Homo sapiens: one gene and its partners. The protein of the gene in region 1 interacts with the protein of each later gene in a biochemical or structural test. Each region holds a gene or a part of one and is shown on either strand. Other genes may lie near its edges.

The links.
Region 2: the proteins of KDM3A (region 1) and ETV2 form a complex in vitro, tested with the Homo sapiens proteins (one study listed by BioGRID).
Region 3: the proteins of KDM3A (region 1) and MRTFA form a complex in vitro, tested with the Homo sapiens proteins (one study listed by BioGRID).

The regions. Positions count from the first base shown.
Region 1 is NC_000002.12:86,486,352-86,493,302, forward strand, and holds the end of KDM3A (lysine-specific demethylase 3A), read left to right. Parts: intron 1-2,966; coding exon 2,967-3,086; intron 3,087-3,168; coding exon 3,169-3,308; intron 3,309-4,529; coding exon 4,530-4,706; intron 4,707-4,789; coding exon 4,790-4,924; intron 4,925-5,687; coding exon 5,688-5,768; 3' UTR 5,769-6,365; downstream 6,366-6,951. UniProt on the Homo sapiens protein: Histone demethylase that specifically demethylates 'Lys-9' of histone H3, thereby playing a central role in histone code.
Region 2 is NC_000019.10:35,637,211-35,644,744, reverse strand, and holds the start of ETV2 (ETS translocation variant 2), read right to left. Parts: upstream 3,001-7,534; 5' UTR 2,589-3,000; intron 2,312-2,588; 5' UTR 2,285-2,311; coding exon 2,215-2,284; coding exon of another isoform or gene 2,131-2,214; coding exon 2,047-2,130; intron 1,797-2,046; exon of another isoform or gene 1,781-1,796; coding exon 1,700-1,780; intron 1,472-1,699; coding exon 992-1,471; intron 511-991; coding exon 398-510; intron 94-397; coding exon 1-93. Other genes in the region: RBM42 (RNA-binding protein 42), read right to left, coding at 7,191-7,303, 7,393-7,534.
Region 3 is NC_000022.11:40,530,777-40,538,037, reverse strand, and holds the start of MRTFA (myocardin-related transcription factor A), read left to right. Parts: upstream 1-4,210; 5' UTR 4,211-4,402; coding exon 4,403-4,448; intron 4,449-7,261. UniProt on the Homo sapiens protein: Transcription coactivator that associates with the serum response factor (SRF) transcription factor to control expression of genes regulating the cytoskeleton during development, morphogenesis and cell migration.

The DNA of each region.
Region 1 (6,951 bases):
CTCACTGTCTAACAAGGAGGATGCCTGGGATAAAGATTGGTTTCTCCATTTACCAGAGCTTTCTTTCATCATCATTATAACTGAGATCTTCGTCAGTTTTACACATGGCCTTTAATTAGGGCTGGATTCGAGTTGGCCATTTTGAAGGAAGTATGTATTGTTGAATGCAGTTCTAGTTGTTTGAATATTTCAGTGAATTTTATTTACTCATTTTTACTATTTGGCCCCTACTTTTCCAGTCCTCCTGGAAATTACTTATTTCTTCCTGCCATAATTACTTCCATGTCATTTTCCATTTCTAGCCTTAGACCTGTGGGTGTCTTTCTCAAAAAGGACAAGGTCTGTTGTTGTCTTCGCTATGTTCTCCAAAGACTGTTGGGGGAGGGAAGGGAAGGAGGGGCAAGGACTCCAGCCCCACAATTCTGTTACGGTTGAGTCAGCTCAGGGAACCACTAGGAGTGTAGTTGGGGACTGTTGTGACAGGGGAGTGTTTTTGTGTGCAAGCTCCCAGCAGTCTCCATGCCCAAGATAGTTCTGCCAGGGTAGGGGTACCAGAGAAATTGTGTGTGGGTGAGAAGACCCGGTGGGCACAAGGCCTCTTGCCTGTTCCTCACTTCTCAGGTCTCTGTTGGTGAGTCCTCCATGTGCTGTGGGTCTGCAGTGTGCTCTCTCGAGGTCCTGTCCCTCGAGCCCCTCAGAGACTGATTAAAGCAGCTGCATGGTTGGGATCTTGGGCAAACTTAAGTATATAAGAGCATTTTTCCAATAAATTGTATAGTTTATCCATGCTTTATAGAAATCCTGAAGCTTTAAAGGTGGGTATCTGAGAAATTTTCAAAAGAATTGCTTGCGTGGTTTAACTAGCTTGGCAGCGGGTCTTTCCCCCTAGACACTAATAGATGGCAGTGTTACTCTATAAAAGCTTTTCCTATGACAAAATGGTTCCCATCCAGAAGCAAGCATTCAGAAGGATGAAAATAATGATGTGTTCATTTTCAAACACCTTATATCTTATTGTAAACATCATTAAAGAGTGGTCTTTTCAAAGGTTGTGTGATTGAGCTGTGACTCTTCCATGAGAGTAAGTGCAAAGGCTCTTTGGAGAGATCATATAATCCAGCCTCTCTTCAGTTCCTGCAACACCCCCCATTTTGCAAATGAGGACCAGGACTTGCGGACAGTAGAAGGGGCATTGACTTGTTCAGGATCTCCAAGGGGCAGCTAGTGGCAGGTCTGAAACTAGTACTTAGATCTCCTGATTTCCAAGCTAGAGCCCATTTCCCTACTCTTCCCCCACTCTTAACTCCCCATCACCCAACAGCCCCTACTGTTTCAGCTTTTTTTCCCCCTTAAAAGTCCATGGTGTTTTGTTTCAGGATGTTTTGTTGTCTAGCACTCCTTTCCCTTTGACCATTATGTTTTTACAATTTTGGTTTCATCTCAGTTTACCATGGTTTAGAGTCTGGTTTTATCAATGTACAGTTACCCATGACTGGGATCCAGTGGACTTTGGGCCAGTGGCTGGGCAGCAGTTATTTCCTTGCTCGTTTTGCACTGTGGCACTGGCTGGATCAGCAGGCAGCCAGTCCTGCTGAGGCTTTGCCTCCTAGTCTCCTTTCCTTACTTTTCTTGCCAGCTCCATCCTCTTCCTATTGCCCTTAGTCTAACCACCATCTTCAAGTTTGTGTTTATCGTTTGCTTATATTTACAATTTTAACATATATATTTGTATTCCTGCACAATATTCTTTCAGTTTTTAGCCTGCTTTTGAACTTCATATAAATAGAATCAGATTTTTTATATTCATCCATGCTGTCATATATCATCCATGTGTTCATTTCATTCATTTTATTTCTATTACATTAATTGCTTTTTTCTGAAATTTTGCTTTTTACTATGGAACTATTTTTCAAATACAGTGAAAACTTGAGAGTCTGGTAGTGACTCCATATAACTCATCACCCAGTTATATAACAGCTTTTAACTTTTTGCCATAATCGTTTCATTGTCTTCTCTCTTTATGTTTTTTCATCATCCTCTCAACTATCCTATGATTTCACCCTAATACCAAACGCTTTACCTACTCCCAGGACTGATATTTCAGCAAGCTGGAAAGAAAGGAAAGTACAACAGGGCTCTGGGGGCCCTGGTCCCAAGCTGGAGTGAAGAAATGTGCCCTCTCAAAAGTATAGCCCCTCTAAAACCAAAGCCCCAGGCAAGCCAGAGATAAAGCCTTCCTCCAAAACAGTATTATGGGGCGTTTTCAGAGGCTGGCAGGTTAGAAAACAGCCGCTGCTTGCTCACTACAAGCTGTGCTTCTCCCTACTGCCCAGTCTAAGAAGCAGAGTCCTGGTGTTACAATGGGTTGCCCAAAGTGACTGCAGGGTAAGCTTCAGGATGATTGTTGAGCAAGGTGAGCTTTCTCCTGTGAGCAAGGAATTAGCCACAGACTGAACACTGTGGGGGACCTGTCTTTCTGGCTCACTCCTCACCCCTCCTCTTTTACAGTTGAGAGAACCAAGGAATGCGTTGGGCAGTATTCCTTCTTATACTCATGATAGCCATTTGACGTTCCAGGTTTATGTGTGTGTGTGGGTGGGTGCTTTCCCTTGGACTCCCCATCTCGAGTGGTCCTTGGGCTTTGTCTCTTGCCCCAGAACTCCTAGGCTGTGGCAACAATCAAAGCCTGAGCTCACTTGATCTAGCAGATGTCCTTTTGGCAAATCCCAGCTTCGGAAGCCTGCTTTAACCACTTCCATTTCCTGCTGTTTTTGGCTTCTGAGTATTCCTTCTTTTCTTGCTAGCACATCGATTGGTTAAAGAATTTTTTTGCAATAATTTGATCCAGAATTTTTATTCTCAGCAGAAGAGTCAATCAGGGACCTACCATCCCCCAGGTAGGTAGTGGAAAGACTGTGGCAGCCTTTGTTGTCTTTTGTAAAACTTAAGGCACTTTGTTTTTGCAGGATTAATCACTCCTGAAGATCGGAAATATGGAACAACAAATCTTCACTTAGATGTATCTGATGCAGCTAATGTCATGGTCTATGTGGGAATTCCCAAAGGACAGTGTGAGCAAGAAGAAGGTAGGGTGCTGAGCATAAAAGGAGGGCTTACTCTTTGAGCCAGGGCTTGTGGTCTGATATCTGCTTTCTCTTCTTGCTCTAGAAGTCCTTAAGACCATCCAAGATGGAGATTCTGACGAACTCACAATAAAGCGATTTATTGAAGGAAAAGAGAAGCCAGGAGCACTGTGGCACATATATGCTGCAAAGGACACGGAGAAGATAAGGGAATTTCTTAAAAAGGTGTGCTGCTTATGGCATGTGTGAACAGAGGCATAAGGAATAGCAATATTATGTTACTACATGTGGTGAACTGACTGGCTTGGCTAGGGGAATTGTCACAACCTGAAAAGTTAAATCTGTACCTGTCAGATTGAATAGGCTGAAGGTGGTTGCTAAGGAACAAGGATTCTAAATGATTAGGGTTACACTTCTAAAAAAAGCAGGCCTTGTCTTTTATGTCTGTGTTTTGTGTTAGAGTGCATTTAGAGATTTTTGTTCTCTGCTTTCAAGTTAGAAGTTAGTTCATCTGATCATCTCCCAGCATATATCTGTTTTTATTGCCTTGAGAATCTGAGCACTTCAGACGTTCATGTATCCTTGGCCCTGAGTGACCATGTTCTGAGTGAGTTGCTAAGTTTGGTTTTGTCCACTGTCATGTAGCAAGTGGTCCTACTTGTTACTAGCAAGGGTTGCAGGGATTTGGAAGATTCTAGGTTTCCCCTGTAGTTGGCAGGTTTTTTTTTCAGCAAGGGCTATGTGTGGAAATTCTAGGCAACTAGAAAGATGAGTCGTGTTCAGTTTTAAAATTGTTTGGCACTGAGGCTGCCGGTTGCAACTCAGGTGTCTTTGGCTGATATTCTTCAGTCATTCATGAGTCTTGGATATGAACATTCGTAACCTGTTAGCTGGCCCCAAGTATGTCTTTAACAAGCATTTGTTTGAATCAAAGTGTTTCTGGCTAAGGATCATTTGGCTCTTCCAGAAAACCGGCTTGGTCACCATATTGTTCTTTTGATATTGTCACTCTGAGTCTCTGCTTTACCAGTTACTGGATCAAGGATAAACAAGTCTAATCTGCAGCTGTCTTTGGGACTGTTTCGTAAGTCAGATTAAGTAAAGGCAGGTTTCTAATAACTTTAAAACAAGTTCATTTATAAGGATACTGAGCCTACTTATGTTTAAAAATCTAGACTAAAATATTGTTTAAATACAGTATTTACAAACTTATGCAGAGCCTGTCAGTCATGGTTTATGGGAACTGACATCACATTTTCTTCGTCATTCTTCTGTTGGTTCATTCAGCTGAAGTCTTTGATACTACTAGTCGTCTTCTGCCAATGGGGGCACTTAAGTTGAAGAAGGCCTGACATTTATGAACTGCCAACACTGTTTAGAGGAAAAAAATGGCTTATTGGGCCTTAGCATGTTACTGAGTTGCATAATATTTTGAATGTATTCTAGGTATCAGAAGAGCAAGGTCAAGAAAACCCAGCAGACCACGATCCTATTCATGATCAAAGCTGGTATTTAGACCGATCATTAAGAAAACGTCTTCATCAAGAGTATGGAGTTCAAGGCTGGGCTATTGTACAGTTTCTTGGGGATGTGGTGTTTATCCCGGCAGGAGCTCCACATCAGGCAAGAATCATTACTTTTTCTTTAATCTCTTTATGTCATGAACTTTTGGGTTTGTTACTGATATATTACTTGGTGTTTTTCAGGTTCATAACTTATATAGCTGCATCAAAGTGGCTGAAGATTTTGTTTCTCCAGAGCATGTTAAACACTGCTTCTGGCTTACTCAGGAATTCCGATATCTGTCACAGACTCATACCAATCACGAAGATAAATTACAGGTAAAAATAGCACCAATTCCTAGCATTCTTTGGCTATGGCTATGGCTTCATGGCCCATTCTTCACCTTATAAAGAGAGTCAGTGAACTTGGCCATATCGTACTTAGTACACAGTGAGTCGAGGAACTTGCTTTATATCTAGTACTACTATCTACTTAAGTGAGGGAGGAACAAGAGGAAATCTCACCTTGGTTTGATTTGATATTGTTTAGAATCTATAAGGGACTGTCCCCACAGAGAAAGGCCTTAGTACTGAAAATGAATAGATGTGACTTCTGATCTTGGCCCAGCTGCCTGTCGGGGTCTTGAACACAGTGCTTAACCTTCAGTGCTGCAGTGTTCTCATCACTCTTAGGTAGAGCAGAACTGAATCTCTGAGACTCAAAGAGGTCTGAGGGGGTGGTATTTTCAAAAGGATTTCAGTAATGAATTATGTAACATAATTTCATGTTTGGAAAATAAGGGAAAAATGATAAAAGCTGTACCTTGGAACTTGCCTCTCCCTGTACTCACTGTGAGTAGGTCTACGTGGTATCAAAACCTCTAAAAGGGGGAAAATGAGTTCTTGAAATCATGGGTTTAAAATGTATGTGAAATACTGGTCTGAAGGAGCCCAGGGACCTTTTGCAATGTTGACATTTCATACGAATATTGAATTTTAAATTCTGAGAGAAGGTAATAAAATTAGTAGGAGGAAGCTTATTCTTAGTGACAGGTTTTAGATTTAAATGTAAAATGCCCATATTTTCTCCTACTATTTTTAGGTGAAGAATGTTATCTACCATGCAGTGAAAGATGCAGTTGCTATGCTGAAAGCCAGTGAATCCAGTTTTGGCAAACCTTAATCTCCCTGCACATTGGAAATGAATTACAGGCAGCTGTTCAAACTCTTCAGGCAGGATTCCTGTGGACTTTGAGATTCATGTTACCTCATCTTCTTTTTTAAACTGTACCCAACTTGTGAGGGTACTCTGTCTAATGTATATTTCTAGTGTTTACAGACAGTAAATGTGTATATGTAGTAACTATTTACAGAACATGCATCCTTAAACTGTGACTTCTCACCTAGTGCAGAACTTTTACCAGGCTGTAAAAGCAAAACCTCGTATCAGCTCTGGAACAATACCTGCAGTTATTCTTCAGCTGTTTGGACAACTTAGATTGGGTTTATAACTATTAGGAATCACTGCACAGTTTATTTGGGTTGTGTTTTGTGTCTGAGTCCCCTCCCTCATCCCTTAGGGTCCAGAAGAGCAATGGAGGAAGTGACAGCTAATGTTGCAGTTCTTATTGTATGGCATAGGACTGGCATTATATAGCAGAAATCAACTACTGTACAATTTCTTGGGGTTAACCATCTTTAGTTAAATGGAATTTTAATTTAAATGACGCTTTGCTAATTTTAAGTGTTAAGCATTTTGCATTAAAATATTCATATAATATTTTGGCTCAGTTTATTGGCATTATCCTCTCATTGTGGTTTCAACACAACTTTCTTCAAATGCAGGTGTAATGGATTGCTCCAAGAACTCTTCTTAAAAGCAAAGAAATCAGATGCTATAGTGATTTTCTTAGTGATTATTACAAAGCTAACATGGAAATTTCTGCTCAGCCAGGTAGAAACCCTGTCACACTTTGTCAAGGAAACACCACCAATTAATTAAATTTAGAAACAGGAATTAACCAAGAAACCAAATAGTGCCAGGCTAAATGGTTCTAAAAAGGTAAGTAATGAAACACTTTGTTTTATGGCCCTTCATAATGTTAAGTTTATGAAGGAAAATGAAATTATAAGTTCTAGGACAGTACTACCTAAAATATTCATCTCTGTGAAGGAAAAAAATTCACAAAGAAGCGCCTTTCTTTAGCCCACTGATTCTCCTAGGCCACTCTTTCATTTAATTTCTTTAAAAAAAGGAATTAAACATAGAAATCAGATAGTACATAGACAAAGCCTAGAACCTGAGTTTTAATTTGTGAGCTGAGTAGGAGGCCAGAGGATCCGTATTAAATTTCAGAACCCATTGT
Region 2 (7,534 bases), on another chromosome or scaffold:
GATGTCGCGGCGATAGTAGTAGCGAAGGCCCCGGCTCAGCTTCTCGTAATTCATGCCCGGCTTTCTCTTGCGCTCGCCCCACAGCCGAGCCACCTAGGACAGAGGCCCGCTCGGTCGGAGTGGGAAGGGGCGGGGCTTGGCGATAGTGGGGAGGGCCGGGCCTGGGGGCGGTGTGCAGTGCAGACCTGGGCGAGGCCTCGCAGAGCCCGGTGGAGACTGGGTTGGTTGAGGCAGGAGTACAGGCGGGAGATTGGGTTTGAGAAGGGTTGGGCGGGGCCTCGAGTGGGCCGGGGAGCGGCGGGGCCGAGGGCTACGCGGTTGAACCTAGCCCTTGGGCGGAGCTAAATTGAACTAGAAGAGACGGGGCGGATTTGGCTGGGCAGGGGAGCTGCCCCACCTCTTTGGGGTCGCACAGCTGGAACTCGCGGCTGTTGCCAGTCCAACGGATGCAGCTGCTACGCGCCCCGTCGTGGAGCAGCTCCAGGAGGAACTGCCACAGCTGAATGGGACCTGCGGGATGAAGGGAGGGGCACACTCAGTCTTCCCGGCCCTAGATCACACCACTTCAATGATCTAGAGGTCCGGGTCCTCCCAACTCGGGACCCAGGACCCGAGAAGGGGATCCGCCCCCCCTTCTCTGAGATCCAACAGTCAGCCTTGGAGACTCAAGCGTCCAGGGCCCCAGTCTCAGAGATTTAGGAGTTTGGCCTCCCCATCTCGGAGACCCAGGAATCTGGGCCTTTATCGCTTTCGTTTTATATAATCCAGGAGCCTGGGTCCTCATCCCCTTGGTCCCTATAAGACTACCAGTTTCTTAGCCCTCTCCTCCCCAAGGACCTGGAGTGCGGGCCACCGGCCCCTCCTTCGAGCCCCTGGTCCCTAAGCCCCCGCCCCCTCACTGTCAGTCTCCCGGGCCCCGCCCCCTTAGGTGCCTGGGTCCCGGCTCAGGACTCCAGCTTCGCCCTCCCCGCAGTCTTTGCGGCCCTCTCACCTCGGTGGTTAGTTTTGGGGCATCGAGCCAAACTGGCACGGTCCGACTGCGGGCTCGGTTCGGAGCAAACGGTGAGAGCTGAGCTCTGGTACCGCTTCAAAGAGGTGGTGCCACCCGCATGCAGCCCCGGGTTCCAGGAGGTGGTACAGTCCGGGCCCGCGGGCCCGCCCCACGAAATGGTACAGTCCGTGCGCGGCTCCCCGCCCAGGCCACTGCCCCAGTAGGTATCGCCGTCGGGCCCCACAGAACAGTCCCAGCTGGTGTTGCTCCCGGCGGCCTGGGCGCGCGACCACGAGGTGGCCTCTCCCGCCACGGGGACGCAGTTCTGGCCCGCGGCGCCTTCGGAGCCGGCGGCGGGGATGGGGCCCGGGCCGAGAGGGGCGGGGCCCAGGGTCTGCGAGGCGCCGCTCCAAGAGTCCCAGGCTGTGCACGCCATGTCTGTCCAGTCCCCGGACCACGGAAGAGCCTGAGAGTCGGGCTCTGTGAGGAGTAACGGATCCCGAGTGAGGGGAGCCCAGGTGCCCCCTCAAAAACTCTAGGGTCTAAGCTCTCAACCCTGGCACTTGGGGCCCGGCTGACCCGGATCCAGGTCATGCCACCTTGAGGGCGCAGGTGTTCTCAGTCCTCAAAGATCAGGGAGTCTACACCTCTAGCCCCGGTGCCTCGGGACCCCAGTCCCCACCTCCCACCGCCTCTCCCCACACTCACCCGCCCCCCATGGAACTTCTGGGTGCAGTAACGCGGAGCCCCAGTCCAGCTGTGGGAAGCTTGCCAGGGATGAGCTTGTACCTGAGTTTAGGGAGGACTGTGAGCAATGAAAGAGACCCCTCAACTACCCACTCTCTAGTCTCTACTTGTCAGGGACTGGGAGTTATGGCCCCCCAGCCCGTATTTCAGCACCCCGCGCCCCCTTTTCCTTCACCCTCAGGGGTCAAGCACGCGGCCCCTCCCCACCCAGTCCCAGGAACCTAGGCACGCCCCCCTCCTCCCTTTGCCCTAGGATCCCAGCCTCCCCGCTTCTTCTCCAGCACTTAGGGGTCCCAGCCCGCAGCCACCTTTCCAGCATGTCTCTGCTGTCGCTGTCGGCGTGTCCCCTTGGAGTGCCAGATCAGGGAAACAGAAGCCTAATTTGGCTCCTTCTGCAGGCGATAAGGGGTTAGGGTCAGCAGAGGCCCCACCTGGACACCCTCCCCACACACGTTGTGGCAGCCTCGGCAGCCTACCAAGCCCTGCCAGCTTGTTCCCTGGAGGCACTTCCTGTGGGGATGCCTCATCCCAGTTCCACAGGTCCATGGATGCGATGAAGGCCTTCTGAATGTTCTGGGTCGGGAAAAGTCCAGATGGCAATGGGTGAGCTGGTGACACTTGGAGGCCCTGGAGTCTGGGCCCCAGCCCTAGCTTCCCTCAGAGCCAGGAGTCCAGGCCTCCGCTCCCTCCTTCCCCAGGAGCCTAAAATCTTGGTCCTGGGAGTGAGGGACCCCAGCTCTCTTCCTCTGTTAGACCCAGGAGTCCAGGCCCCCGGCTTCTTGGGAGTCTAGTCCCCCAGGTCCTTCCTAACCCAGACACCCAGGCATCTAGTCCTCAGTTCATCGCTCACCTCTGGCGGGTTCCTCTGCCCCCAGCCGGGGGTCTCAGCCCCATTTCATACCATGCACCCCCTCCCCCAAGGGCCTGGGCAAGGGGGAATTTTCCGAGACGTCAGAGCAGGGGTCGCAGCCAGGCTCAAGTTGCAGAGGCAGGGGCGGGGCCGAGCCTCGACCCCAGCCTCGGGGATAGGTGCTGGCCTCTGGGGCTGCCCTGCTGCAGGGGTGGCGTGGGCTTGGAGCGAGGCTTGGGGAACAGCGGGCTGGGTGAGGGCAGGGCGGAGGCTGGGAGAAGTTTACGGGGTGATGGGGGCGGGGCGGGGGGCTTGGTGAACGGGCTGTCTGCCTCAGGGTCTCGATCCTGCGACATGGGGGGAGTGAGGGGAGAGGGTCTGGGGTCAGCTGGGCTAAGCTGGGCTTATCTGCAACAGGAAGAGGGATTTCCGGCCAGATTCCCCCACCCGCCCCCAGCGTCAGCTGACGTCACAATCGGCAGAGTAACTGCGGGGGCGTGGAGCAGGAGTGAAGGCCCACCCAATCCTCCACCAGGCCCAGTAGGGAGGGCGTCCTGGGGCTGCTTCCCAGGAGTGCCAATCATAGCAATATTGACATCAACAATTTCAACAATAACAATAGTAGCAATAACGGCCAACATTAAATGAGGGCTCATTGTGTGAAACCAACTGTGCCATACCCCTTCATTGAATCCTTCTATGAGGCAAGTACAATACATACTCTCATTTGATGAAGGGGGAAGGTAAGGCAGGCATCCTCCCACTGCTCTCCTTCTCCAGACCCCATGCCCTTCCGCGCTGTAATAGTTTAGGACAATTGGGGAAACTGGAGTATGAACTGAATATGAAATATCATAGAATTCTTTTCTTAGATTTGATAATGGTATTCAGGAGGAAAGATATCATTTAGAAAATGAACTCAGAGATGAAATGTTATAATGTCTGTAACTTGTGGTTGGGCGCGGTGATTCACGCCTGTAATCCCAGCACTTTGGGAGGCTGAGGCGGGTGGATCATCTGAGGTCAGGAGTTCTAGATCAGCCTGTCCAACATGGTGAAACCCTGTCTCTACTAAAAATACAAAAAATTAGCCAGGCGTGGTGGCGGGTGCTTGTAATCCCAGCTACTCGGGAGGCTGAGGCAGGAGAATTGCTTGAACCAGGGAGATGGAGGTTGCAGTGAGCCAAGATCATGCCATTGCACTCCAGCCTGGGGAACAAGAGCGAAACTTCATCTCAAAAAAAGAAACAACAAAAAAAAAGTCTGTAACTTGCTCAAATAATTCAGCAAAAAACAACAAAAAACCACAGCTATACATGTAACATATACATACATACATGAAATATTTAGGACATACCTAAACTATAAAATTGTTCACGTAAAATTCAATAACTGGGTGTCCTATATATATATAAAATATTTTTCGAGATGGAGTCTCACTCTGTCGCCCAGGCTGGAGTGCAGTGGTGCGATCTCAGCTCACTGCAACCTCTGCCTCCCGGGTTCAAGCAATTCTGGTGCCTCAGCCTTCCAAGTAGCTGGGATTACAGGCAAGCACCACCATGCCCGGCTAATTTTTTGCATTTTTAGTAGAGATGGGGTTTTGCCATGTTGGCCAGGCTGGTCTCGAACTCCTGACCTCAAGTGATCCACTTGCCTCGGTCTCCCAAAGTGCTGGGATTACAGGCGTGAGCCACCATGCCTAGGCTAATTTTTGCATTTTTAGTAGAGATGGGGTTTTGCCATGTTGGCCAGGCTGGTCTCAAACTCCTGGCCTCAAGCTATCCACCTGCCTTAGCCTTAGTGCTGTAATTAGAAGCATGAGCCACCACCGTGCCCAGCCATCCTGCTGTATTTTAATAAGTATGTAATATTTACCATTAAAAATAACTTTTGCATATCGGCATCTTCCAGTCCCCAGCCCAGCCTCTTGATCATTAACTACTTGCCGTTCTGGAGAGCGGGTGGCATTGCTCCTCCTTCCATTTTACAGTAAAGTAAACCGGGGGTCCCATGGAGTGGGAGTGGGACTGGGATTGGAATCAGTGTGGGGTAAGCCACAGAGCCCTGGAGCATCACTGGTCCCTCTATCCGTCCAGCGCGGAGGCCTGAAGGGAGTCCTGGCTTCCCATCCTTGAAGCTGGCCTCTTGTCTGTCTCTCCATGTCTCTCTGCCCTCTTTCTTCAGGTTGGCATATCTAAAGCTGGGTCTCTGTTGCCACGGGCCTGACTCCAGTGAGGCTTTGTCACCTGGTCTCTTCTGACATCTCTGTCCCTCCCCATCTGTCTTTGAGTGTTCCTATCTCATCTCCTTGTCCGTCTCCATCTGTCTCTTGGTTTTCTCCCCGTCCCCCTTCCCACTGCACAGTCTCTGATGGTTCTCATCTCTGCCTCTGAGCCTCCTGCTCACAGCGCCATCTCTACCTCTGCTTGCCACATTCTATGTGTGTGTGTCTCTTCTTGTTCTCAGGAAGACTTGTGTGCATTAAAAAAAAAGATAAACATTTAGGGGGTACAAGTGCAGATTCCTTACTGGATATATGTCAGTATATCCAGTATACTGGCCTGGGCCTTTAGTGCACCCGAATGGTGAGCAACGTACCCAACTGGTAACTGTTCAGCTTCCCCCACGCTCCCACCTTTTGGAGTCTGCAGTGCCTGTTACCCCACTCTGCATGTCCACGTGTACCTGCTGTTCTGCTCCCACTTGGAAGTGAGAATCACATGCATTTGGAAGCGTCCTTTCTGGAGCCATCCTCTCTTCCCATCTCCTCCCGTGACCCTATGCTTGCTGTCAGTACAAGGGGGGTCAGGGGTAGAAAAGACTAGTGATGGGGGGAAGGGGCTTTGAGGATCCTGGGGCTGGGTGGTCTGGCCCAGGTGGCAGGGGGCTAAAGGGCACTTCCTGCCAGGGAGGCTCTCACCCTCTGACCAGACTGGAAAATGTGACGTCAGAGAGGGGGCAGTAAGGCGGGGAAGACAGGAACAGGAGAAATTCGACACCTCTCCTGGGGGACCTCGGTCCCTGAGAGGCCTTGGTATTGTCCATCCCCCGACTTATGCCCCACAAAGTCCTGCCCAACCTGCTCCCTCCTAATGGAGGGTTCCGATGGCTGTGTCCCTGGGAGACCCTCCACTCCTCCCCATACTCAAACCTGCCATCTCCCTCCTCTGGCCCAGTCCCTGCCCCAGCCTTCTAGACTTCCAGCCACAGTGGTGGTCGCAGGGCGTTTTTTTTTTTTTTTTTTTGAGACAGAATCTCACTCTGTCACTAAGGCTGGAGTGCAGTGGCGCGATCTCAGCTCACTGCAACCTCCTTTTACCAGGTTCAAGCGATTCTCCTGCCTCAGCCCTCCCAAGTAGCTGGGACTACATGTGCCCGCCACCACGCCCAACTAATTTTTGTATTTTTCAGTAGGCACAGGGTTTCACTATGTTGGCCAGGCTGGTCTCGAACTCGTGACCTCAAGTGATCTGCCTGCCTCCCAAAGTGCTGGGATTACAGGCGTGCGCCACCGCACCCAGCCGGTCACAGGGCCCTTTCTACAGCGCACATCTGTGCTGCCCAGGACCTTGCTGCTGCTTGAATTTTCTCAGCTTTTTGGGGCTTGCTGCTGCCTTCTGCGTAAAGCTTAAGCCCTCAGCCTGGCATTCAAGGCCCTGCACAGACACCTCTTCAGACAGGCAGAGGCCAGCTTGGAGCTGGGAAGAGAGGGGAACAGACCCCAAGTCTCTGTTCTCTCTATCTGTGGGTCTCTCCTCCTTTTTCATTTCCCAGCTCCAAGGGAGAGAACAGAGACCAACAGGGATATAGAAGCTTAGAGACAAGAAATGGAGGGGTACCCACAGAGACAGAGATAGAGGTGCCCACCGAGACTTAGAGCATGGTGAGCTGGCTGGGCATGGCAGACTGGAGAAGCTGGAAAGCCCCAGAGGAGACTTGGGGGTGGACGGTTCCTTCAGGAAGGGCCCCCTCACCCACAGGTCAGCGCCCCCATCCTGCCCTGACCACTCTGGGCTCTTATCGTCAGGGCACCGGGCCTATTTTCTGCACTGGACCTTGAGCTCTAACGGTGCAGGGCCCAGGACTTTTAGTCACCATTGTGTCCTCAAGCACTGTTCAGACCCTTGGTGAGAGTCTGCTGGATGGAAGAGGGCCTAGAAGCCTGTGAGCTCCAGAAGGGAAGGGCCTAGATCTCCTACCTTGGTGCTGAGAACACAGGAAGTAGCCAGGACACGGGGATGGGCCTCAGCTTGGCTTCACCCTTGCCATTGGCCCCCCTTTCTCCTCTGGAATAAGCAGCACTCAGCATGTGTGGAAGAGGTTTGAAGAGGGAATGGGTGCGCAGGAAGGGCTCAGAAGCCCCCGCCTGGGTGTTTGCCTGGGTAAACTCTCAAGGCTCCCCGCCATTTCCAGCTGTGGGGAAGCCAAGCCCTGCTCCCCACAGCGTGCTTCCATGCCCAGCCAGGGGTGGAAATGAACGTAAATTTATTGAAACTGGTTTTGGGGCAGGGGATGGGTGGACAGCTGGGGGTTTTCCAAAGAGAACTGAGGGAGGAGCCAGCGCCCGGCCAGGTGGGAGCGGGTGCCTGGCCACAGACCCTATCTCAGGCCCAGCTTCTTCTTTTCCTTCTGCTTCTTGCGGACCACGTCCAGATTCCGGTCCTTCCACATGCTCTTGCGAAGCTTGATGGGGCGCGAGCCCACATACTTCCCTGTGGAGACAGAGGGTTCAAGGCAGGCTCGGGTCAGGCTTAGGCCAGCGCCTGCCGCGCCTGCAGTTCCCAGGGGAGGCCGCACCCACCATTCATCTCACGCATGGCGCGCACGTAGTCGCTGGGGTCCTTGAAGCTGACGAAGCCGTAGCCCTTGGTCTTGCCTGTGCGCTTGTCACGGATCACCTTGGCCTTAAGGAAGGATGGGAAGCGGCTGAAGGCGCGTGCCAA
Region 3 (7,261 bases), on another chromosome or scaffold:
GAGGGGCTCCTCACTTCCCAGTAGGGGCGGCCGGGCAGAGGCGCCCCTCACCTCCCGGACGGGGCGGCTGGCCGGGCGGGGGGCTGACCCCCCCACCTCCCTCCCGGACGGGGCGGCTGGCCGGGCAGAGGGGCTCCTCACTTCCCAGTAGGGGCGGCCGGGCAGAGGCGCCCCTCACCTCCCAGACGGGGCGGCTGGCCGGGCGGAGGGCTGACCCCCCCACCTCCCTCCCGGACGGGGCGGCTGGCCAGGCGGGGGGCTGACCCCCCCACCTCCCTCCCGGACGGGGTGACTGGCCGGGTGGGGGGGCTGACCCCCCCATCTCCCTCCCGGACGGGGTGGCTGGCCGGGCTGAGGGGCTCCTCACTTCCCAGTAGGGGCGGCCGGGCAGAGGCGCCCCTCACCTCCCAGACGGGGCGGCTGGCCCAGCGGAGGGCTGACCCCCCCACCTCCCTCCCGGACAGGGCGGCTGGCCGGGCGGGGGGCTGACCCCCCCACCTCCCTCCCGGACGGGGCGGCTGGCCGGGCAGAGGGGCTCCTCACTTCCCAGTAGGGGCGGCCGGGCAGAGGCGCCCCTCACCTCCCAGACGGGGCGGCTGGCCCAGCGGAGGGCTGACCCCCCCACCTCCCTCCCGGACAGGGCGGCTGGCCGGGCGGGGGGCTGACCCCCCCACCTCCCTCCCGGACGGGGCGGCTGGCCGGGCAGAGGGGCTCCTCACTTCCCAGTAGGGGCGGCCGGGCAGAGGCGCCCCTCACCTCCCAGACGGGGCGGCTGGCCGGGCGGAGGGCTGACCCCCCCACCTCCCTCCCGGACGGGGTGGCTGGCCGGGCTGAGGGGCTCCTCACTTCCCAGTAGGGGCGGCCGGGCAGAGGCGCCCCTCACCTCCCGGACGTGGCGGCTGGCCGGGCGGGGGGCTGACCCCCCCACCTCCCTCCCGGACGGCACGGCTGGCCAGGCGGGGGACTGACCCCCCACCTCCTCCCGGACGGGGCGGCTGGCCGGGCGGGGGGGCTGACCCCCCCCCACCTCCCTCCCGGACGGGGTGGCTGCCGGGCGGAGACGCTCCTCACTTCCCAGATGGGGTGGCTGCCGGGTGGAGAGGCTCCTCACTTCTCAGACGGGGCGGCTGCCGGGCGGAGGGGCTCCTCACTTCTCAGACGGGGTGGTTGCCAGGCAGAGGGTCTCCTCACTTCTCAGACGGGGCGGCCGGGCAGAGACGCTCCTCACCTCCCAGACGGGGTCTCGGCCGGGCAGAGGCGCTCCTCACATCCCAGATGGGGCGGCGGGGCAGAGGCGCTCCCCACATCTCAGACGATGGGCGGCCGGGCAGAGACGCTCCTCACTTCCTAGATGTGATGGCGGCTGGGAAGAGGCGCTCCTCACTTCCTAGATGGGATGGCGGCCGGGCGGAGACGCTCCTCACTTTCCAGACTGGGCAGCCAGGCAGAGGGGCTCCTCACATCCCAGACGATGGGCGGCCAGGCAGAGACACTCCTCACTTCCCAGACGGGGTGGCGGCCGGGCAGAGGCTGCAATCTCGGCACTTTGGGAGGCCAAGGCAGGCGGCTGCTCCTTGCCCTCGGGCCCCGCGGGGCCCGTCCGCTCCTCCAGCCGCTGCCTCCCGGGCGGCGCTCGCCGGCGCCGCGGCAAAGACTGAGACAGCTCCGCTGCCCGCTGAACTCCATCCTCCCGGCGGTCGGGCGGCGGCGGCTTCGGCCCATTTATTTATTTATTGAGACAGGGTCTTGCTCTGTTGCCCAGGCTGGAGTTTAGTGGGGTGATCACAGCTCACTGTAGCCTGGAACTCCTGGGCCCAAGTGATCCTCCTGCCTCAACCTCCCAAGTAGCTGGGACTACAGACAGGCATCACCATACCTGGCTTTTTTTCTTTTTCTTTTTTTTTTTTTTGGTAGAGATGGGGTCTTGCCATGTTGCCCAACCTGGTCTCTAACTTCTAGTTTCAACCCACCCTCCCGTTTGGCCTACGAAAGTAAGTGCTTCTTGTTTAATTTTTTAAAGATTACTGTTTAAAAAATTGTTTTTCTTTTATTTAGGTCTTTTTACCTCAAAGTGCCAGTGAGATAGTGGGTGTGGAATTGCTAAGAAAAAGTCAAATCAACTGAGATGTTATGTTTATTTGTTATTCCTATCACATGACTCTCAATATCTCCTGTGGTGCTGGAGTATTGACACTGTGGCATTACATGCTCTCTTCTATGGCGAACAGTTTTGGCAGGAGGGAGACAGCCAGCCCTCTGCCCTTCCTACCATCTTCTGTGCAGGAATCTTAAAGTTTATATTTATTTTCCTGTAAATACCGAACTGTGAAAACTTGTTTCATTTGAAAACCCTCATTACTAGAGAGACAAAGTAAATTTAACAAAGACCAGGTGTGGTGGTTCAGGCCTGTAATCCCAACACTTTGGGTAGCTGAGGCAGGGGGATCACTTGAGCTTAGGAGTTCGAGACCAGCCTGGGCAACATGGTGAAACCCCATCTTTACTAAAAATACAAAAGTTAGCTGGGTGTGGTGGCATATGCCTGTAGTCCCAGCTACTTGGGAGGCTGAGGTAGGAGGATCGCTTGAACTTGGGAGGTTGAGGCTGCAGTGACCTGAGATCATGCCATTGTACTCAGTCTGGGGGACAGAGTGAGACCTAGTCTCAAAAAGAAAAAAAAAAAAAAAAAGAAAAAACCTCTCACACAGCAAATTATACAGCCCACATAAGGACCAAGGAATGACTCAATCTTCTCAACCTTTTAGGGATGCTTTTCCCTTAGTTGCTAACCTTTGACCAGACTGTCATGTAGACTCAAAGTTGAAATTTACCCGTTTTTCCTAAGTCAGTTTGAAAATTTGGTTGCCAGAAGGGGCCAGTGAGATGCTTCTGCTTTCCCAGAGCAGCATTTAGCCCACACTGGCTGCTACTCATTGCCTGTTGAGTCATTCCCACAGTTCTATATAGAGCTTTTCTGGCTTTTCTTTTAAACATGATGTTCTTGGAGTGAGAAAGGAAGGAAGTTTTTCTCTCTTGTACTGAGTCTCCCTCACCCCAAATTTGCATTGCTTCTCTTTACTAATAACAAAATATTGCCTTCAGTCATTCTGAGACTATTTTCTCTCTTAAGGTCTCCTACTGCTTTTATTTACCATTTGTTTACTATGTAAGCATTAAGGTATTCGCTGGGCTATTGGCAGCAGCCAGCTTTCACATACAGGCTGATAGTTAACGAGAAAGATTGAAGAATTCTAGATAAACACACCAAACATGGATTCTTAGTTTCCAACTTTAAAAAATTCAGTCAGATAGACTGAAAGTAATCTTAATATCATTGTTATGAATATCAGTTAATGAAAGGTGCTGTGGGGAGCAGTGGCTCATGCCTGTAATCCCAGCACTTTGTGAGGCTAAGGTGGGCAGATCGCTTGAGCCTAGGAGTTTGAGACCAGCTACTCAGGAGGCTGAGGTGGGAGGAGCACTTGAGCCTGGAAGGTCGAGGTTGCAGTAAGCCACATTTGCACCACTGCATTCCAGTCTGGGCAACGGAGTGAGACCCTGTCTCAAACATACAAAAAAAGTAAATGAAATCAAATAACATCAGTATACTGTCTATTCACAGACCGTATGTCTAATATAGGCACAAGTAAGAGGCTCTTTTAGGGGACTGACAGATCTGAAAGACAGATTACAGCTCTGGAATGTATTCAGATGACTTTTTGAAACAGATATTTTAATTGGAGTGGGGGTGGAGAAATAGTTGAGCTTCTGTAGTTAAATGTTCAACTTCCTTAGCCTGTTATCTATAAATACCACATATAAAAAAGCCGTTGGAATTCTTTTTCAGAAAATTTATGGAGCTTACATTTTGTATATATGTGTTTATATGTGTTTAATCTTCTTCCCCACCTCTCATCAATGGGTCAGTAATTGGACTGCTTCTTTCATGAGCTTGAGTTGTTTGGATTGTGTTTAATCTGTTCCACTAAACTGCATTAACAGCAGTCTCTTATAGTGGGATTTTGAACAAAACCTCATCTTCTCTTCTTGAGAGGAAAAAAGCAGTTGATCTGTTTTCTGAAAGTCTCTTTATATATGTCTCTCCCCTCCCCCAGAGACGAATAGCAAGGGGAGGAGCTTGCTCACTGTTCTAACCACACTTAGTATGTCTTAACTGGAGAGCTTTTTGGTTTCCTGTCGGCAGTAATTCAAATCTGTGTCATCTTGACTCGCCTGAAGGGTGGATAAATTGGTAACTGCACTGAGAAGGGGATATTCTCACAGTCTGATTTGAGCATAAGGCATCAGATTGAATTTGTGAAAGCTTTCAAGACAGCTTTTCTCCTGTGACTTTGACTTTCTTCATTATATTTGTGGATTTTTGTTTCTGGAAGAATCCGTCATGACTCTACTGGAACCTGAGATGTTAATGATGGCAGTACAGTCAGGTAATTCACATAAATCCTAATTTCCTAACTTGCTAATAATTTCCTACAAATCTTATTTGCCACAGGCTTCTTTAAAAAAAATGGGTCATATTTGTACTAGGAGTGGACAGAAATGGGGAGGAAGAAATGTACTGCATTTTCAGTTTTTTATTAATTTTTCTCTCATTGCAAATTCTAGTTATTCTGACAGCTTTGAATTAGATGGTTACTGGTTTTAAGATTATTCAGTTGCGGAGACCTGTTTGAGAAAAAAAACTCTTTGTCTTCTTTAATCAAGTGTTGTATTGTCTGTGGCACTGTTTTAAATGAAAGACAATTAAATTGCTTTGCTGTTTTATACATTGTTGTCTTTAATCACTAGTCTAGACTCTATGTTTTTATGAAAGCATCTTTAAATTTTTTTTCTTAGCTGTTCTTTCTTGTTTGTGGTATAACCTTTCTGTACCATCTTTTGGTTCTGTGGAAATGCCCTTAATAACACATAGGATTAGGACTAAATTTTGGAGATGGGTAAGTTTGAGCAAAGAGTCAGTCAACACAGGGGAGGATTTTTGAAATTTTATCTCTAAAAACAGTTTTCCAATTCAGAGTTTTTAAAACCCTTTTAAAAATATAGTTAGTTTTCAGTGGTTTCTTTTACTTTTAGTGTTTTTACACTTGGAAGTCAGATATCTAAAAATAGGGAATGTTCTTTTGCTATTTTTAGATCTCTACTAAAATGTAATCTGTAGTGTTTTCTTGTTTCAGAGCATATCTTAAAAGATTCAGACAAGTGGCATTTGGGGACCTCTTCCCCATCCACTGGCTTTCACTCAAAGGAAAATAAGACTTCTTGGTTCTGGCAGATACTGTCTCTGGCAGAATTGGTCTCACTGTTTTCCTTGGGGAGCATTTTAGGTAGTATGTTGAAAGACAGATATACATCAGTTGAAGACAGGATCAGATGCTATCTGGTTAATAAAGCTTATGATCAGGGAAGGGGCAAAGAAGACAGATACCACTACCATTTTGTTCTTTCTGGTTTTACTAATATGACCATAATGAGTCATTTTTTATGCATATAGGCTATGTGTTTCAGGTTGCCTTTCCTTTTCCTCCTACAGATCTATTGAGCTTTGTGTTCTAAACAAGATAGTGTGCTTATCTGAATGTTTCCCATCTGTCTTTGATGAAAAAGCTCCCAGTTAAACTAATTTGGATTTATTTATTTTTCCTGTCTATTCCAGTTCTCTGCTATGTGTGGGCAAGTGCCTGTTTTATCTTGAGGGGTAGATTTTAGCATTTGAACTCTCTCCCTTTTTAAAATCACCTTGTTACTTACAGATCATCTCAGTCCAGTAACTTTTCTTTATAAAGGTTAAAAGATTGTTTGCTTTCTTCTCAGGTAGTCTCAGTGTTCTCAGCCTTGAGAGGGAAAGGGACATACTTAATATTTTCTTGTCTTGCTTGCTAAGAGCTGTTTTTCCTTCGTCATGTGTTGGGCAGGGCTAGCCACCCATCTGTTGGACCAGCTACTTCATAAAACTTTCAAAGGATGATAGTAGGTGAAATGAAATTGACAAGAGTGTTGGATGCAGGTAGAATGAAGGGTCTGCTGTAGCGTGTATGTGGACTTCTTTCTTTTGTTTATGTTCGTAAAAGTGGAGAGACTCTGGATATAGAAAGGGTAATAGCAAACTGATATCTCCAGTACCTGTCTCCTATATGATCAAAAACATTAACAATGTGTTGGTTTTGTAAAATTGCTACTGTTTTGTTCTGAAGTGCTGTAGCCATTAGCTGGATTGTAACAGTAATATGACAGCTGTATAGTAAAATACTGTCTCTCTTTATGATAGGAAATGAAAAAGCATCTGTTATGAAGCCTCAGTGAACTAAAAGCCATTCTCTGAAAAGTCAAGACTTTTGGGCTTTATCAGTAGATAAACATGAGCCATAGGTTTTCTAGCAATAGAATATTTTAACCTATATGAATATATGCTTTATAGGTGAGACTGCTATTTAATGAGAGTTTTAAAGTAACTAAACCTTGTTGACAGAATTCAGGATGGAAAGTTTTACCCTAAATAAAACTTCAGGATATTGAATATGATAGCAAAGTTCCAGGGTATGTTTTATATTTATGAACAATTTTCATTTGAATATTTGGAGCTTGGGGGTTTTGGTGAGACATGTTCATGTATGTTATATACAAACTTTCAGGCCTGGCATGGTGGCTCACACCTGTAATCCCAACACTTCAGGAGGCTGAGGCAGGAGGATCGCTTAAGCCCAAGAGTTCAAGACCCATCTCTACAAAAAATTAAAAAAAAAAAAAAAAAAAAAAAGCCAGGTATGATGGTGCCCACCTGTAGTCAGAGCTACTTGGGAAGCTGAGGTGGGAGGATCGATTGAGCCCAGGAGGTCGAGGCTGCAACAAGCTATGATCATGCCATTCTACTCCAACTGGGGCGACAGAGCAAGATTCTGTCTCAAAAAATAAAACTTTCATCCTCCTCACTGCTGGTGGTCTCTTACTGGTCCTTTGGAACCAGCCAGATGTATATGTCTTCCTAATTAGATTATTAGCTTCTCAAGGGCAATATATTAATCTATATATTGGCTTCTGATACTGGCACATGGTACTTAGTATTTTTGAATGAATGAGAGTGATGAAATTTGGATTGTCATACTTTCCCTGATAAGTATAAGCTTTTAAATCAAGATTTTATCGAAGTATTTTGAGATCTGTTCTTATATTAAGAAATGAATCTTCTACCCACCATCCTGTATTTTAGCCAATCCTTGTCCAAAGCAGATGTTGTTGAAAAATA